Regions from separate parts of the Homo sapiens genome. Here region 1 is linked to region 2. A link means that fine-mapping ties the variant in region 2 to the expression of a gene that starts in the linked region. Tissue or cell type: NK cells. Region 2 holds a variant in brackets; the other region holds the start of a gene. All regions are shown on one strand. Distances are from middle to middle.

The links. PIP is the estimated chance that this variant, and not a neighbour inherited with it, causes the effect.
Region 1: it holds the start of EPHX4, and the variant in region 2 is fine-mapped to the expression of EPHX4 in NK cells (Gilchrist 2021, PIP 0.94).

Annotation. Positions count from the first base shown.
Region 1 is chr1:92,024,385-92,034,693 of GRCh38, reverse strand. EPHX4 (epoxide hydrolase 4) reads right to left here and starts at 4,709. Exons shown (of 7, transcript NM_173567.5): 1 at 4,384-4,709; 2 at 2,104-2,189. The coding sequence starts at 4,614. It overlaps LOC124904218 (a long non-coding RNA gene), which reads left to right and starts at 4,307. Exons shown (of 2, transcript XR_007066222.1): 1 at 4,307-5,329; 2 at 7,490-10,309. RefSeq lists an enhancer at 4,509-5,010.
Region 2 is chr1:91,952,781-91,962,428 of GRCh38, reverse strand. All of the region lies in intron 1 of BRDT (bromodomain testis associated), which reads right to left. Among named protein-coding and RNA genes, the nearest start is that of BRDT, 8.2 kb to the right of the region's middle. The variant T/C (reference allele first, on the strand shown) is at 4,934.

The sequences.
Region 1 (10,309 bases), 72 kb before region 2:
CTCTAGCCTGGGCAACAGAGCAAGACTGTTTAAAAAAAAAAAAAAAAAGAAGCGTCTTAAGGTAGTAATCCTTTCAGCACTAGATGCATTTTAAATCAGGATTTTGAGTGACATAAAATCTTTAAGACTCTAAAGGAGGTAAGAAATCTGTAATGCTGGAATTCTAGGAATTATAAGATAGTAAGGGAGAATTTGGGGACAGGATATTGTCCTAGACCTTTCAAAATATACCAGATATTCCACCTTTGAGTCAACTAAGGGAACTGGGCTTTTAAAAACATCAATTTCTTGACCTATTTAGTTTATGAACTATTTCTTATAGCCCTGTGCTATAAAAACTGGTTTTCTTTTACTGCCATGATATGTACCACCCTTTTTTTTTTTTTTTTTTTTTGAGACGGAATCTCGCTCTGTTGCCCAGGCTGGAGTGCAGTGGCACGAGCTCGGCTCACTGCAAGCTCCGCCTCCTGGGTTCACACCATTCTCCTGCCTCAGCCTCCCGAGTAGCTGGGAGTACAGGCGCCTGCCACCAAGCACAGCTAATTTTTTTTTTTTTTGTATTTTTAGTAGAGACAGGGTTTCACCGTGTTAGCCAGGATGGTTTCAATCTCCCGACCTCGTGATCCACCCGCCTCGGCCTCCTGATATGTACCACCTCTTTTAAAGATGTTCATTAAAAAAAAAAAAAAAAAAAAAGTTTAAACATGTGTTGCTTTCATCTGTACTTATTTGGCCCAGTGGGGTCAATAGAGAACAGAACACTTCCCCTTAGGTAACTGCTATGGTCTGAATATGTTCTCCCAAAATTCATATGATGAAGTTTATTTGCCTCCAGAAGACACATCAACAAGGCACCATGTTGGACACACACAGACATGGATGTCACCAGACTCTGAACCTACTGGTGCCTTGATCTTGGATTTCCCAGTCTCCAGAACGGTGAGAAATAAATTTCTATTCTTTATAAATTACCCAGTCTCAGGTATTTTGTTAGCAACAAAAATGAACGAAGATAGTAACTAATAATTACATATTTGGGGCTCCAGATTTTCTTCCTAATGAGAAATATTTAGGTACTTAAATTATCCTGCATTCATATAAGCCTATTGCTCTGTGCATAGGAAATAGTTCATTTTCAGTTTCCATAAGTGCTCTACTCTGCCTTCTCCTCACCCCAGCCTCACCAAAATCTTCCTAATAACAATCACTCCACGTCTTTGGTTTGTTTAAAATCTCCTTTCCCTACCCAGTGTTGTATTTTGTCTATAGTAGATACTCTATACAAACTGTTTTGTTACTATTTCAGAAATTTGAAACATTAAAAGATACTTCTTTTAATCCTCAAAAAAATATATAAATTTAAATTGGTAGCAGGTAGGTCTTTTTAGGAGGAAAAAGACCTGTGATTCAGGAACATTTAGGAATATTAACTCTGGGCACATGATCAAAAAGTAGGGTCTGTTAAAAGTCATTACAAGAGGCTTGGCGTGGTGGCTTACATCTGTAATCCCAGCACTTTAGGAGGCCAAGGTGGGAGGATTGCTTGATCTCAGGCTTTCAAGACCAGCCTAGGCAATATAGCAAGATCCCACCTCCAAAAAAAAAAAAAAAAGCTAGGTGTGGTGGTAGATGCCTGTAGTCCCAGCTACTTGGTAGGCTGAGGTGGGAAGACTGCTTAAACCCAGAAGTTCAAAGCTGCAGTGAGCTGTGATCATGCCACTGTGCCCCAGCCTGGGTGACAGAGTAAGACCTTGTCTCAAAAATTGCCATTGTAACAGTATTAAGAGGTGGGACCTTTAAGAGGTGGTTAGGTCATGCAGGCTCTGCCCTCATGGATGGAAATAATGCCACTATGAAAGGGCAATTTCGGCCCCCTTTTGCTTCTTTGCCCTTCCTCCTCTGCCATGTGATGTTGCAGCAAGGAGGCCCTTGTCAGATGTTGGCACCTTGATCCTGAACTTCCCAGCCTCCAGAACTCTGAGAAAATCATTTATGTTCATTTTAAGTTACCCAGACTGTGATATTCTGTTACAGCAGCACAAAATGAACTGAGAAAATAAGCCAAGTTTTAATGTAACAATAAATGTTAGTTGGTAAGCTTACCAGAATTCTGGAAATCCATGAAGCAGCAGCATAAGTGGTTTGCCTCTTTCTCCAGCAGCAACATAGTGAAATCTTAACCCTGAATCCTGAAAGTAGAGGGCATGGAATTTTAGTGATGTTTGTGTTGATTGACAAAGCAATATATTTAGCATTTCCATTTCATTAAAAAAATAGTAACTTGCCTTATTTTAAAACATTTGTGTATTTACAATATCTTCATGACACTCAGTTGCCTTATTTTTAACATCAAGAAATATATTTACTTTTATTAATTTTCAAAAAGAAAAGCAAACCCCATGACCTATTAATAGGGTAAATTGACAGATTCACTTTGTCAACACTCCCTTGACAGTACCTTCTCTTCTTGTTCTAGTACAGTCAATTTATATATTATGAGCTTCTGAAGCAATGTCACAATTTGTAACTTTCATCTTACCATTTGTAACTTTCATCTTACTGATGTGTCACATTTCATCTCCCTCAAATGCTGCAGGACATGTAAATAATTCTAATCTGAATTTATATTTCTGCCATGTTTACATCCTAGTCATCTACTTTTCTCAGCTTGCCCGTCAAGAGCTGTGCCATCAGTTATATAATTCACACCTCCTTCTCTTATTTTTAGGTCTCTCCTTCCCACATTATTATTTTGAGTGTTGCATGTTCTGTTCCCCTTGCTGCCTGCTCATGTCATGTCAGTGTGCGTTTCTAATAAGAGAATGCCCTGAGTGCTCAAGACTTCACTCTGCATGTAGGAGACAAGAAAACCCAAGGAAAATTAAAAAAACATGGGAATGAGTCAGGAATTCAAGCAAATACTAAGCAGGCTGAATTGAGGAAAGTAGAGGGAACAGCAGGAATAAAAATCTCTGAAAGCAAGCAAGCTAGGAAACAAAAAGAACCAAAAGCTAAACACAGACATTGGGTTTTTATAGCAGGCAACTCAAGCAACTGAGTTTTCAGATGTGAAAGAATCATTTTGCAGATTCAGAAGATGAGGCCCAAAGATGGTAACATGAGTCATAAAATGGTTGAGAGCAGGGCTGTGACCAGAATCTCCATCTTGTCCTAACTCCCAGGACAATGCTCTTTCCACTCGGTTCTCTGTCTCTGGGGAAGCTCTTTAGGCGGCCAGAGCGAGGGGAAAAGTGTTTTATGGAATTCCAGATGGTTCTTATACTACTTTTACCCCTCAGGTTGAACAGAGATAACAAATCTGACTTTACCCTCAGCTGCACGATGGCTTCCTAGAGGTTCAATAACTTTTTTTATTGGTGGTGAGTCTTGGAGGATTAAATGTTATGGGCACTGCAATGGATTTAATTAACAGATACTTTATTGCACTGACTATGCATCAGGCATTGTTCTAAGTTTTTCGTGTTTGTTTTTATAAATATTAACCTATTTAATTCTCATGTCGACCCCAGGCAAGAAAGAAGTTCTCTTGCCCTTCTGAACTTCAGCTGCGGGGCAATTTAGCTCCTAACAGGAAATAAGGACTTGGTGACATAAACATCCCCTCTTATGAGGCTGGGTTTGAAAGGCCTGTGAGTCAGACTGCAGGGTGTATCACGGGAACTATTTCCCTTCACCACCTGGAGCCTCAGGAAACAGAATATTTGTGGGCTGTGAGGAAGCTTGAACAATTAGCGTCTGCAGGCATGGCTGGATTTACCTTTTATTCCATTCCTTTCTTTGGTCCCTGACTTCATAAGTATGCATTCCTCCCCACAACACACACAATTTACTTATTGTTTCATGCAACCTAAGTCGTCTGTGATCATAATAAACTCATGACTCCCAAAGACTGACTGTTTACTCTTATTATCTCTAAAATTGGGCAAGAACAGCCTCCTGAGACATTAGGATGCCACGAGGAACAATTCTCTACAGCTGATCTGAGCTCTAAAGGGCAAAAGGGTGACAGGAGACAGCTTCCCCTTGCAGTAGGAAAAAGAGCAGGTTTATTCTGGGTTGTTGTGGCGCCGGGGGGCAGTAATATAAGAGGCCCCTGATTAGAGAAGTTCCACATTCAGAAACCAATCAAGGTGCCTGCAAAGACCGAGTGCTGTTTATCTGTATCTCTCTCTCTCTCTCTCTCTCTCACACACACACACACACACACACACACACGACACACAGGGACCCAACCCCTCCTCCCCTCCTGCCAGGACACTAGGGGACGCTGAGCCAGCGTCTCGGAAGGAGAAGCCCGGAGCCCCCCACCCTCGCGGCGGTCACGCTCCCTCCCGCTCCCGCCAGGCCCGCGCGGCCCTTCACCTTGATCCGCACGTAGCAGTGGGTGCCCAAGGAGGGGTCGCTCAGGCACGCGGGAGGGTGCTCCCGGGCGGGCCGCCGGAAGGTCTGCGCCGGCCCCTTGCCGAGGCTCCACAAAAGTTTGAGCAGGTGGATGGAGGCGCAGAGCCCGCAGTAGCAGTAGACCAGGGACCAGAAGAGCAGGGACCGGAGCGTGAGCATCAGGCGGGGCAGGCAATCCCGCAGCCTCGCCATTGGGAGGCGGCGGCGGGGCCCACTGCCCTTCCTCGGGAGCGGGTGAGCGAGCGCCGCAGCGCGCCAGGCCAGCCCGCCGTCGCCTCTCGACGCGCGCCTCCCCCGGCCCGGGGCGGCCGGCGTTCCGTGTCACCGCGGCGGCTCCGCACACGCGCCGCGCCCAGCCCGGAGCGCGCAGGGGAGAGCCGGGCCTGCGGGGTGCGGCGGGCCAGGCCGGGGTGCAGAGCTTGGCTGTCTTCCGCGGAGAGCGAGATCCCGTTTCAAAATCGCAAAACTGTGGGGGAGGATGAAGGCGAGACTTTCCCAAACCATCCTGGGCACCAAAGAAGGTAGCGCCACTCAGTCTTCTTTGTTGTTCTCAATGTATCAAGCAAAACTATTTCTAAGCCCACATATTCGTGTGTCATAGTTCAGGGACACAGGTCAGCGACAAACTTCCATGCTATTACACCCAAAGAGATTCTTTAGAGTGCAAAATCACTCTGCACTCTGAAAGATACCAGCCTTCCTCTTCTCAAAATCTTTCGTGGAATCATAATTTCTGTAGAAATCCGCCTATGCCTTGCCTGGTTCAGCCACAGCAAACTTACAGAGAGCTGCAACCCCAGGGATACAACGAATGCTTCAACAACGTGACGCGGCAGAAGCCTGGCCAGAAGGCCACACACCTGAGAGTTCGTCGAAGGGCTGGAAGCCGTGAGAGTGACAGTCCTCGGTAGGTATCTCAGCCTCAGCACCGACATGGCCACTCTTGTCCTGACCTCTTCTATCGTCCAGTTCACTGTTAGAATTTCATTAAGCCTTTTCCCAATCACCGGGTCAGGTATTAAGTGTTCATTTTTTATGAGAAACTGTCAAACTGGTTTCCAAAGTGGCTGTACAATTTTGAATTTACTTCAGCATGTGTGAGTTATACAATTGACCTTTGAACAATGCGGGGGGTTAGGGTTGCTGAACCCTTTCACATCTGAAAATCCATGTATAACTTTTGAGTTCCCCCAAACTTAAGTACTAATAGCCTACTACTGACCAAAACAATTAACATATGTTTATGTATTACATACTGTATCTTTATAATTAAGAAAAATGTTAAAATCATAAGGAAGAGAAAATACATTTACTATTCATTAAGTGGAAGTGGATTATCTTAAGAGTGTTCATCCTTGTCATCATCAGGTTAGGTAAGCTGAGGAGGAGAAAGAAGAAGGGAGGTTGATCTTCCTGTCTTGGGGTGAGGGGGAGGGAAGAGGTGGAAGAAAATCCATGTGTAAGTGGACCTACACAGTTCAAACACATGTTGTTTGAGGGTTAACTGTATTTTGCTCTTTTTTTCTAGGGTCTTGAGTTAGGAACTTATTGAGACCTTTGCAATTTCTAATGCAATCATTTAGCACCTATACATTTCTCTCAGTACTCTTTTTATTTTATTTTTTGAGACGGAGTCTCACTCTGTCGCCTAGACTGGAGTGCAATGGCGCGATCTCCATCTCAGCTCACTGCAAGCTCCGCCTCCCGGGTTCACGCCATTTTCCTGCCTCAGCCTCCTGAGTAGCTGGGACTACAGGCGCCCGCCACCATGCCCGGCTAAGTTTTTTGTATTTTTGGTAGAGACGGGGTTTCACCGTGTTAGCCAGGTTAGCTCGTGAACCGCCCGCCTCAGCCTCCCTAAGTGCTGGGATTACAAGTGTGAGCCACCGCGCCTGGCATCTCTCAGTACTCTTTAATCGTATTACATATGTGTTGATATGTTGTATTTTGCCATTTGTTATGTATTTTTTAAAATGTCCTGTTTTAGGTTGGGTGCTGTGGCTTACGCCTATAATCCCAGCACTTTGGGAGGCTGAGGCAGGAGGATCGCTTGAGCTCAGCAATTCAAGACCAGCGTGGGCAACATGGCAAAACCCTGTCTCTACAAAAAATAGAGAAATTAGCCAGGTGTGGTGGTGCACGCCTGTAGTCCCAGCTACTTGGGAGGCTGAAGTGGCAGGATCGCCTTAGCCCTGGAAGGTTGAGGCTGCAGTGAGCCAAAATCATGCCACTGCACTCTAGCCTGGGTTAAAGAGTGAGATTATGTTTCAAAAAATGAAAAACAAAACAAAACAAAACAAAAAACAGGGCCGGGGGTGGTGGCTCACATCTGTAATCCCAGCACTTTGGGAGGCTGAGCTGGTCAGATCACCTGAGGTCAGGAGTTTTGGACCAGCCTGGCCAACATGTTGAAACCCCATCTCTACTAAAAATACAAAAAAATTAGCCAGGCATAGTAGTGCACGCCTGTAGTCCAAACTACTTGGGAAGCTGAGGCATGAGAATTGCTTGAACCCGGGAGGCAGAGATTGCAGGGAGCTGAGATTGCACCACTGCACTTCAGCCTGGGTGACAAAGGGAGACTCCGTCTCAAAAAATAAATAAATAAAAAAAAACAAAGATTCCTGTCTTCCTCCTTGCCCCATTGTGTTTTTAATGTGTTTAGCAATTTTTCTATTATTACTTTCAGTCCTCCAAACTCTTAACTCATAACACATTAAATTTTTAAGAGATAGAGATCTTGCTATGTTGATCAGGCTGGTCTTGAACTCCTGGCCTCAAGCAATCCTCTCACTTTAGCCTCCCAAAGTGCTGAGACTACAAGCATGAGGTACTGTGCTTGGCAGTCCATTATTGACTTGTATCTGATTCTATTATGGCCCAAGAACATACTCCACATGACCTCTATTCTTTTAAATTTGTTTTATGATCTGGGATATGGTCTATCTTGGTGAATGTTCCATGGTTGTTTAAAAAAAAAAAACGTGTGGATAAGAGTGTTCTACATTTGCCCGCTAGATCATGTTGGCTGCTTGTGTCCTACCTTTTTTTTTTTTTCTTTTTCAAGAGACAGGGACTCGCTGTTACCCAGGATGGAGTGCAGTGGCTATTCACAGGTGCAGTCATTAAGCACACTGCAGCCTCGGACTCCTGGGCTTAAATGACCATCCTTCCTCAGCCTCCCAAGTAGCTGGGATTACAGATGCATTCCACCACACCCAGCTTGTATCAACTTTTAAATGACAGACTTCCTGTTAAATTCATTCACATCAAATAAGTTCCTCAATTTACAGACCACAATACCAAAATCTGATGAAGATTAAAAAGCGATATAGACAACTTTTTGAATGAAAATAGTTTCAGCCCTCTCCCTCTCCCCCTCCCCCTCCCGCTTTCCACCGTCCCCCCTCTGATGCCCAGCGGAGGCTGGACGGTACTGCCGCCAACTCGGCTCATGGCAACCTCCCTGCCTGATTCTTCTGCCTCAGCCTGCCGAGTGCCTGGGATTGCAGGCACGCGCCGCCACGCCTGACTGGTTTTTGTATTTTTTGGTGGAGACAGGGTTTCGCCGTGTTGGCTGGGCTGGTCTCCGCCTCATGACCGCGAGTGATCTGCCCGCCTGGGCCTCCTGAAGTGCCGGGATTGCAGACGGAGTCTCGCTCACTCAGTGCTCAATGTTGCCCAGGCTGGAGTGCAGTGGCGTGATTTCGGCTCACTACAACCTCCACCTCCCAGCCGCCTGCCTTGGCCTCCCAAAGTGCCAAGATTGCAGCCTCTGCCCGGCCCCCACCCCATCTGGGAAGTGAGGAGCGTCTCTGCCTGGCCGCCCATCGTCTGGGATGTGAGGGGCCCCTCTGCTGGGCCGCCCAGTCTGGGAAGTGAGGAGCGCCTCTTCCCGGCCGCCATCCCATCTAGGAAGTGAGGAGCATCTCTGCCCGGCCGCCCATCGTCTGGGATGTGGGGAGCGCCTCTGCCCCGCCGCCCTGTCTGGGATGTGAGGAGCGCCTCTGCCCGGCAGTGACCCCGTCTGGGAACTGAGGAGCGTCTCTGCCTGGCCGCCACCCCGTCTGGGAGGTGAGGAGCATCTCTGCCCGGCCGCCCTGTCTGAGAAGTGAGGAGCCCCTCCGCCCGGCAGCCGCCCAGTCTGGGAAGTGAGGAGCCCCTCCGCCCGGCAGCTGCTCCCTCTGGGAAGTGAGGAGCGTCTCCGTCCGGCAGCCGCCCTGTCCGGAAGGTGGGGGGCAGCCCCCGCCCGGCCAGCCGCCCCGTCCGGGAGGGAGGTGGGGGGCAGGCCCTGCCGGGCCAGCTGCCCCGTCAGGGAGGGAGGTGGGGGACGCCTCTGCCCGGCTGCCCCGTCTGGGAAGTAAGGAGCCCTTCTGCCCGGCCGCCACCCCGTCTGGGAGGTGTACCCAACAGCTCATTGAGAACGGGCCATGATGAAGATGGCGGTTTTGTTGAATAGAAAAGGGGGAAATGTGGGGAAAAGAAAGAGATCAGATTGTTACTGTGTCTGTGTAGAAAGAAGTAGACATAGGAGACTCCATTTTGTTCTGCACTAAGAAAAATTCTTCTGCCTTGGGATGCTGTTAATCTATAACCTTACCCCCACCCCCGTGCTCTCTGAAACATGTGCTGTGTCCACTCAGGGTTAAATGGATTAAGGGCGGTGCAAGATGTGCTTTGTTAAACAGATGCTTGAAGGCGGCATGCTCCTTAAGAGTTATCACCACTCCCTAATCTCAAGTACCCAGGGACACAAACACAGCGGAAGGCGGCAGGGTCCTCTGCCTAGGAAAACCAGAGACCCTTGTTCACATGTTTATCTGCTGACCTTCCCTCCACTATTGTCCTATGACCCTGCCAAATCCCCCTCTCTGAGAAACACCCAAGAATGATCAATAAATACTAAAATAAATAAATAAATAACCCATTAGACTGAGAAGTGAAGTGTCAGTACAAGGACAGTCTACTAAAATTGCTGAAAAATAGCAATTATAGTATTTAGTGGTGGCACAGATATTTATATTTGGTTTTGTAGATATTTGTGTCAGCTATATCAAATTAATTAAATTAAACCAACAACTATTTAAAAAAAAAAGAAAATAGTTTCCATAATTATATTAGAAATTGAATCTACCAGTATATAATATGAATAATACAACTATGGAGGTTTAATTTCAGGAAAGAATGGTCCAACATCAAGAAATCTATAAACATAACTATATCGACATTTGTAGAAGAAAAACCACATATCAACAAATGCCAATAAAGGCATGTGGCAAAATTCAGCAGCTATTCCTTAAAAGCTAAATTAATCCAGGTAGCAAGACACTGCTTAAACATTACCATAACCAGAAAACAGTAAACTATAGTGAAATCCTCTATTTTAAGAGTTGGGAATGAGAAAGAATGATTGCTATTAGCTCTATTATTTAACATTATTTTTGGAAATTCAAGCTAAGGAAATAACCCAAAAAGAACCAAATAAATTTTAAAAATTACATAAAAATTGGAAAAGAGGCGAAAATATAGCTGTTTGCAGATTATATTTCTTTAAACCTTAAAAAATTAATAGAATACAATTTGGTAAGGTGTCTAGATACAAGGTAAGTATACAAAGTCAATAGTTTTTCCATATCCTAGCATTAACCAATTAGAAATTGAAACTGCATTCACCAGATTGCAGGAGAGCTCAACATTGTATCATTCCCCCATATTATTGCATATAATTAATTTTTGATAATATTCCACTGTAAGATCATGATAGTTTATTCCTTCTTCTATTAAAAGCATTTGGGTTGGTCCTGTCTTTCCTTCCCTCCTCCCTCTCTTCTCCCTCTTTCCCTATTATGATCCTTGCATATGTTTTGTATATTCTTGTACATGTCTC
Region 2 (9,648 bases):
CCGGGAGGCAGAGGTTACAGTGAGCCAAGATCGTGCCATTGCACTACAGCCTGGGCAACAAGAATGAAACTCCATCTCAAAAAAGAGTTAACACATACTGTGTTTTAAAGCACATCATGATTAAGACAGGATGAAAAAAAAAAAAAGCCAAATGGCAAAGGAATCAATTTTTAAACAAATACAAATTTTTTATATACAAATAGTAAAAGTTTCACTATATATGCCTTAGCCTTGGATTTTTTTTTTTTTTTTTTTTTTTTTTTTTTTTTTTTTTTTTTTTTTTTGAGACGGAGTCTTGCTCTGTCACCCAGGCTGGAGTGCAGTGGCTCCATCTCGGCTCACTGCAAGCTCCGCCTCCCGGGTTCACGCCATTCTCCTGCCTCCGCCTCCCGAGTAGCTGGGACTACAGGCGCCCTCCACTACGCCCGGCTAACTTTTTGTATTTTTAGTAGAGATGGGGTTTCACCGTGGTCTAGATCTCCTGACCTCGTGATCCGCCCGCCTCGGCCTCCCAAAGTGCTGGGATTACAAGCGTGAGCCACCGCGCCCGGCCAACCTTGGCTGTTTTAAATTATTTCAACATCTCAGTCTTCCTGTCTTTCACAAAAACACAAATTGAGGTCTTAGCAGGAAAAGTCTATAAATTCCTAGTCGGAAGAAATAACAGAGAATGTTAAAGATATGATCAGTGTGTAAGTATTCTACAATTGTTAATTCAATGAAGAGAGAAAAGCAAAGTAAAAAAATGTTCTGGCTAATTTGAAAAAAGTGATTAATTTATGGTGTCTCTCTCTCTCTCTGAGATGGAGTCTCATTCTGTTGCCCAGGCTGGAGTGCAATGGCGCGATCTCGGCCCACTGTAATGTTTGCCTCCCAGGTTCAAGCGATTCTCTAGCCTCAGCCTCCCAAGTAGCTGCGACTACAGATGCATGACACCATGCAGCTAATTTTTGTATTTTTTTGTAGAGACAGGGTTTCAACATGTTGGCCCGGCTGGTCTCAAAAACCTGACCTCAGGTGATCCACACACCTCAGCCTCCCAAGGTGCTGAGATTACAGCCTTGAGCCACTATGCCCAGCCAAAGTGATTTTATTTTATTTTTCTGTTTTTATTTTTTGAGATGGAGTCTCACTCTACCGCCCAGACTGGAGTGCAGTGGCACAATTTCCACTCACTGCAACTTCCGCCTGCTGGCTTCAAGTGATTCTCCTGCCTCAGCTTCCTGAGTAGCTGGGATTACAGGCACCTGCCACCACGCCCAGCTAATTTTTGTATTTTTAGTACAGGCAGGGTTTCACTACATTGGCCAAGCTGGTCTGGAACTCCTGACCTCAGGTGATCCACCCTCCTCGACCTCCCAAAGTGCTGGGATTACAGGCGTGAGCCACTGCACCCGACCCAAAGTGATTTATTTTAAAACCGAATTTATTAGATTAAAATGTTACTCTGTGGCACATATTGCTACATCTAGAATAAAATATTTTAAATTTCATAGGTGTTTCAGAAAGACGGTATTTAATATTCCTAGACAGCATCATTACTTTAAGGATAATAAAGGTACTACCAACGTGCACATAATACCTCAAGTACATAAGCAAAATGAAAATGAAATAAGTTGCCCATTTTTAGAGACCAGTGTTAACACTTAGCCAATATTATCTTTGTCTGCATTAAAGTAGTATTAGTTCTCACCTCCTGTTGCATATTAATCACTTATATTTTTGAACTGTGGCGTAAAACATACCAAAATTTACCATACTCTTTTTAAGTGTACAGTTCAGCAGTGTTAAGTATATTCATGTTTTTTGTGAAACCAATCTCTAGAACTTTTCCATCTTGCAAAACAGAAACTCTATGTGCATTAACCAACAAATCCTCATTCTTCTGTCCCTGCTGTACCTGGCAACCACCATTCTGCTTTCTGTTGCCATGAATTTGACTACCCTAAATGCTTCATTAAAGTGACAAATCATATTTATCTTTTTTGTGATTGGTTTATTTTTCCTAATACAAAGCCCTCAAGATTCATCCATGTTGTAGCGTGTGTTAGAATTTCCCTTCCTTTTAAGGCTAAATAATATTCCATCGTATGTCTATCATTTTCTTTATCCATTCATTCATTGATGCCACTTGGGTTGCTTCCACTTCTTGACTATATTGTGAATACTGCTGCTATGAACATGGGTTTACAAGTGTCTCAGGACCCTGCTTTCAATTCTTTTGGATATATATACACAAGTGGAATTGCTAGATCATATGGCAATTATATTTCTAATTTTTTGAGGAAGCCCATCCCATTTTCCATGGTCAATACATGATTTCACATTCCCACTAACAACGTACAAGAGTTCAATTTCTCCACACCCTTGCCAATAGTAATTTTTTGTTTTGTTTTAATACTAGCCATCCTAATAGGTATGAGGAGCTGTGGGTCTTTAAAAATACCAATGCTCAGGTCCCAATCTCTGGAGAGAGCGCCTGGGAATCAGTTTTGTTGGTTTTTTAAAAGTTCCCTGTTACTTCTGATGTGCGGCCAAGATTGAGTACTACTACATTAAAATGAATTGAAGGTGGTTATCAATCTTCTACTTTCACGATTTTCATGTTACACATATATGGAAATATAGCACTTAATAAAAGTCATAGGCTGGGTGCTGTGGCTCATGCCTGTAATCCCAGAACTTTGGTAGGCTGAGGAGGGCAGATGGCTTGAGGGCAGGAGTTCAATACCAGACTGGACAACAAGATGAAACCCCCCATCTCTGCAAAAAATACAAAAATCAGTCAGGCGTGGTGGTGCACATCTGTAGTCCCAGCTACTCGGGAGGCTGAAGTGGAAGGACCACTTGAACCCGGGAGGTAGAGGCTGCAATGAGCTCAGATTGTGCCACTGCACTCCAGCCTGGGTGACACAGCAAGACCCTGTCTCAAAAAAGAGCTCAGGAGTTCAAGACCAGCCTGGGCAACACAGTGAGACCTCACCTGTAAAATAAAAAAAAAAAAAAAAAGAAAGAAAAAGAGAAAAATCGTAAGAACAAAGATGGAGCTATTCTAGGATGTCACAACTAAACTGGCTCTTATCCTGGCTTTGTAATTATTTAAAGCTAACCTACTTTTTAGGTGCCCCTGTCACTGTAACCTCCCTCATCCACAAAGGTTAACCACTCCAATCACTACAGACCAAGCTGTGACCATTTTTGAACTTTACATATAGTATTATTTACTATGTATTACGTTTTTGTTTGTTTTTTGAGATGGCATCTCACTCCATCGCCCAGGCTGGAATGCAGTGGCGCGATCTTGGCTCAAAAATATATATATGTGTATTTATTACACAATATACTTTCTGCAGTCTCATGGTTTCATTTTCTACTTTTTTTTGAGTCAGGGTCTTACTGTCTCCCAGGCTGGAGTGCAACAGTATGATCTTGGCTCACTGCAGCCTCAAACTCCTGGGCTCAAACGACTCTCCCACCTCAGCCTCCTGATTATCTGGGACTATAGGTACATACCACAATATCCAGCTCATTTTTTTTGTATAGATGGGGTTTTGCCATGTCACCCAGGCTGGTCTCGAACTACTGAGCTCAAGCAATCTGCCCTCCTTGGCCTCCCAAAGTGCTGGAATTACAGGTAAGCCCACGGTTCCCCGCCTCATTTTCTACATTTAATTTTTTATCTAGAATTACTTTCCACTGGTATCTTTGGCTACAGACATTCCCCCAGCCTTGATTTTTTAAAAAAAATACCTTGCCACACAAAAAACTTACACAGGATGTTTATAGCAGCTTTATTCATAATTGCCAAAACTTGAAAATAACTAAGATGTCCTTAAGTAGGTGAAAGGGTAAATACACTCTACTACATTCATGCAATGAAATATTATTCAGCACTAAAAAGAAATGAGCTATCGGCTGGGCGTGGTGGCTCACACCTGTAATCCCAACACTTTGGGAGGTGAAGGTGGGTAGACCACCCAAGATCAGGAGTTCAAGACCAGCCTGGGCAATATGGTGAAAACCCATCTCTACTAAAAACACGAAAACTAGCCGGGCATGGCAGTGAACGCTTGTAATCCCAGCTACTCAGGAGGCCGAGGCATGAGAATCGCTTGAACCCTGGAGACAAAGGTTGCAGTGAACTGAGATCCCACCACTGGACTCCAGCCTAGGTGACAGAGTGAGACTCCTTTTAAAAAAAAAAAAAAAAAAAAGGGCATGAGTTATCAAGTCATGAAAAGACATCGTGAAAGCCTGAATGTCGTTCTCAAAAAAAGGCAAAACTTGGCCAGGCATGGCGGCTCGCGCCTGTAATCCCAGCGCTTTGGAAGGCCGAGGCAGGTGGATCATTTGAGGTCGGGAGCTCGAGACCAGCCTGGCCAACATGGTGAGACTTCCCTGTCTCTGATAAAAATACAAAAGTTAGCCAGGCAATGTGGCACATTGCCAGTAATCCCAGCTGCTTGGAGGCTGAGGCACAAGAATTGCTTTAATCTGGGAGGTGAAGGTTGTGAGCCAAGATGGCCCTACTAAACTCCAGCCTGGGTGACACAGCAAGACTCTCTCAAAAACAAAAACAAAAACAAAAAACAACAAAAAAACACAAAACTATAGAGATAGTAAAAAGATCAGCAGTTGCTAGGGGTTTGGGGAGGAGGGAATAGGCAGAGCACAGAGGATATTCAGGGAAGTGAGACTACCTTGTATGATAGTATAACGGTAGATCCATTTGTCAAAACTCATGGAATGTACACCAAAACAGAAACTATGGAAACTATTAATGTTGGGTGATGTGTCAATGTAGGTTCATTGATTGTAACAAACGTACCACTCTGGTGCTGTACTAGTGTTGAAACGGGGTAGATGGGAACACTATTTACTGCTCAGTTTTGCTGTGAACCTAAACTCCTCAAAAACATAAAATTTTTTTTTT[T/C]TTGAGATGGAGTCTCGCTCTGTCGCCCAGGCTGGAGTGCAGTGGTGCAATCTCGGCTCAGTCCAAGCTCCGCCTCCCAGATTCAAGCCATTCTCCTGCCTCAGCCTCCAGAGTAGCTGGGACTACAGGCGCCCGCCACCACACCCAGCTAGTTTTTTGTATTTTTAGTAGAGACAGGGTTTCACCGTGTTAGCCAGGATGGTCTCCATCTCCTGACCTCGTGATCCGCCTGCCTCGGCCTCCCAAAGTACTGGGATTACAGGCATGAGCCACTGCCCCCGGCCAAAAATAAAATCTATTAAAACACACATACAAATCCTCTCCATGTTCAGCGCTAACACAAAAGTTTTTGCTGTCCCACAAATCATAAATACTGTAAAACATTCCATAATTCCATATCCCTCACTGGCCTTCCTCAGTTACCTTCCTAGACTTCTCTGTAGTATTTAACATGGCTAAGTACATAGTACCTATAAATTACCTATAAAGCCTTTTTGCCAAAAATGTGAACAATTGAATGTAATCAAGATTTTATTTCTATTTTTAAAAATTTTTTGGAGACAGGGTCTTGCTCTGTCACCCAAGCAGGGGTGCAGTGGCTCAATCATGGCTCACTGCAATCTTGAACTCCTGGGCGCAAGCAATCCTCCTCCCTCAGTTTCCTGAGTAGGACTACAGGTACATATCACCATGCCTGGTTAATTATTTTTTCAGGAAAGGGGGGGAGCCAGAGTCTCACTATGTTTCCCAGACTGGTCTCAAATTCCTGGCTTCAAGTCATCCTCTCACCTCAGCCTCCCAAAAGCGCTGGGGATTACAGATGTGAGACACCATGCCAGCCTAATCAAGCTTTTAGATATAACTTTTGTTTTACAGAAAATTCAGGGACTTAGAGCTGTGCTGTATGATGGCCCCTAGTTAACCATAACAATTTAAATTACCCAAAACTTAATAGAATTAAAAACTTAGCCACATTTCAAGTGCTTAATAGCCACATGTGGCTAGGAGCTACTGTATGAGACAATGCAGATATAGAACACTGCCATCATGGCAGAAAAGTTCTAAGGGACAGTGCTAAAATGGCCTATTTTACAAAAGTCAAGGTCATTACAGAAAATAAGAAAAATGACTCTACATTAAGATCCATGACATACAACTCAGGAAAAGCAGGCAGGGGGTGGGGGGGGGCAGGAAGAACCATGATAACCAAACTCAATTGGTTATTCTATACCAAATCTTGGTTTTAAAACATCAGCCATATTTCCAGCCAGAAAGGTGGCAAAAGAAAAAAAGAAAAAGATCGGTCATAACATTTTGAGACAACTAGGGAAATCTAGGGGATTGTTCATCTTGATAGATGTAATAGCAAGGTATACAGGAAGAAATGTTAAGTGTTGCTCAAAAAAACTTGTGAAGTCATATCTGTAATATATCTTTAAAAGGCCTGTGGGAAGGCTATATAGAAAAGCAAATATGGCAAAATGTTGACAATTGCTGATATAGTTTTTTTGTACTATTTTACCTTTCTGTACACTTGAAAATTTTAATAACAGCCTTAAATACACTGTAATTGAGGGCCACAGATGGCCTGAACATGAATGCACCAAACATTAACAAATAATTCTGATATCATTGTCACTGGGCAAAACAATAGCTAATATTTGATAATCTGATTATCTTCTCAGTGGTGAACTCTCTGCATTTCTTGGCTGGAGGCCCTGGTTTCTAATGTGAAGTGAAGCTCACTGTCCAGCAATATATGACTAAAAATTTTCCCTTTTATAATGTATCCACTGTCATTACCCATCTTACTGTTTCAATTACTTTAATCTTCTGTTTCTTTTAAACGTTTAAAAATGGGCTTATGTGGCTTTTTATGATACTTTGCAAATTTCTATGCTAGACAGCTGTCAATTTTACTATTTCACTTTCCCTAAAGCCTTTAATTTTAGCTCTTAATTTTTAATAATAAACAGAAGCCACCACAAGAGTCCTACAAAAGAACCCAAAAGAGGTTTTTGTTGTTGTTTTGTTTTGTTTTTAAGATGGAGTCTCACTCTGTCTCCCAGGCTGGAGTGCCATGGAGCAATCTCAGCTCACTGCAACCTCTGCCTCCCGGGTTCAAGCGATTCTTCTGCCTCAGCCTCCCTAGTAGCTGGGATTACAGGGAGGCATTACACTACACCCAGCTAATTTTTGTATTTTTAGTAGAGATGGGATTTCATGTTGGCCAGGCTGTCTTGAACTTCTGACCTCAAGTGATCCACCTGCCTCAGCCTCCCAAAGCGCTGGGATTACAGGATTGAGCCACCGCACCCAGACAATTTTCATGTTAATGGTGGGTCCTAACCACTTGTCTAGTGTCAGAAGTAAACATGCTGGTTAATTTAAGGTTCTCTCTAAAAAGCACTTACACTCACATTCCAATATGCCACCTTAAGGAGGGGAAAAAAGTACAGAGTTACCATTATACTGGCAACTATAATCTGCAGTCTAACCCATCTAAGTGAAAGTCCACTGTTTTTTTGTTTTGTTCAGACAGGGTCTTGCTTTGTCACCCAGGCTGGAGTGCAGTGGCATGATCACTGCTCACTGAAGCCTCGATCTCGGGCTCAAGCCATCCTCCCACATCAGCCTCCCAAGTAGCTGGGACTACAGCTGCATGCCACCACACCTGGCTAATTTTTTTAATTTTTTTAGTAGAGATGAGGGTTCACCATGCTGCTCAAGCTGGTCTTATTAAACTCTTGGTTCTCAAGTGATCCTCCCACCTCAGCCTCCCAAAGTGCTGGGATTACAGGCGTGAGCCATCACACCCAGCCTCCACTATTGCTTCTAATGTTTATAGTGAGTTGTCATTTTGTTATTTCCGCTTTCAAAACATTTTTTACCTGTGGATATATCTCTAGAAAGATGGGTCATACACGGTGGCTCATGTCTGTAAACCCAACACTTTGAGAGGCCAAGGTGGGAAGAACACTTGAGCCCAGGAGTTTGAGACCATCTTGGGCAACAGAGTGAGATCTTGTGTCTACACAAAATACAAAAAATAACTGGGCATCATGGAGCACACCTGTAGTCCCAGCTACTCTGGAGGCAGAGGTGGGGGGATCACTTGAGCTCATGAAGTCGAGGCTGCAGTGAGCCATGATTGCACCAATGCACTCCAGCCTAGGTGACAGAGTGAGAACTTGCCTCAAAAAAAAAAAAAAAAAAAAAAAAAATGCCGAGCACCGTGGCTCGCACCTAAAATCTCAGCACTTTGGGAGGCCAAGGCAAATGGATTACCTGAAGTCAGGAGTTTAAGACCAGCCTGAGCAACATGGTGAAACCCTGTCTCTACTAAAAATACAAAAATTTGCCAGGTGTGGTGTCACATGCCTGTAGTCCCAGCTACTTGGGAGGCTGAGGCAGGAGAATTGCTTGAATCCCGGAGGGGGAGGTTGCAGTGAGCTGAGATCATGCCACTGTACTCTAGCCTGGGCAACAGAGGGAGACTCTGTCTCAAAAAACAAAACAAAACAAACAAAAAAAACAGGTAGGAGAAGAAAATGCTAAGTAAAAAAAAAAATGTATCATGAGCAGATGAAATCTAATGTCAAGAATTCAATGTTACATAGTAACCACTCATTACAACTGTTCAAAAACAATGTATCATAAATGATAATGAAAAGTTCAGTTCACTTTGTTGAAGACAATCACACAATAGTGTAGCATCCCCTTGTTACATCAGTCTATGGTTGAATGAATAAATTGCCTGAAAACCACGTCTCTTGCCCACTCAATAACTCTCAAAATAACCTTGGGAACTCTGAAAAGAATCTTTTTCTTGCTGTCACCCAGGCTGGAATGCAGTGGCATGAACTTGGCTCACTGGAACCTCTGCCTCCCAGGTTCAAGCGATTCTCCTGCCTCAGCCTCCCAAGAAGCTGGGATTACAGGCACCCGCCATCATACCTGGCTAATTTTTGTATTTTTAGTAGAGACGGGGTTTCACCATATTGGCCGGGCTGGTCTTGAACTCCTGGGCTCAAGCAATCCTCCTGCCTCAGCCTCCCAAAGAGCTGGGATTACAGGCGTGAGCCACAACACCCAGCTGACAAATTTTTGAATTCCCTCAGTGATTACTAACTGTAATCAGTTATTAAATTGTGTTGCCCTAAGTGCATACTTCAATCTCAGGAAACAGCACAGCATAGAACTAAAGAGCTTGGATTCTGGAGGTCAAAAGTAACCTGGCCCTTGATGAGCTTATACACTAATTCCAAATCCTACACCATCAAATGAGCAGTCTCCAGTCCAAGGGAGAAAATAGTTTCTGCAAACTTAGATCAGGCTTCAATTTGGGCCAGAGGTAATTCATAGAAATGATTTACAATGTTGGGGTGGAGGGAGGGGGGAGGGATAGCATTAGGAGAAATATCTAATGTAAATGATGAGTTAATGGGTGCAGCACACCAACACGGCACATGTATACATATGTAACAAACCTGCACGTTGTGCACATGTACCCTAGAACTTAAAGTATAATAATAAAGAAAAAAAGAAATGAATTACAATATTCCTTACAATGACTCAATCTTCTCATTTGCTTCTCCCTTCAGTCTAAGGATGAGGCACTTTTTCTATCTAGAACTCTTTTCCCAGGGACTCTAGATAACACTCCCCCATCACCCCTGGAAGGCCCTTGGTCCCTCTTTTTTTTTTTTTTTTTT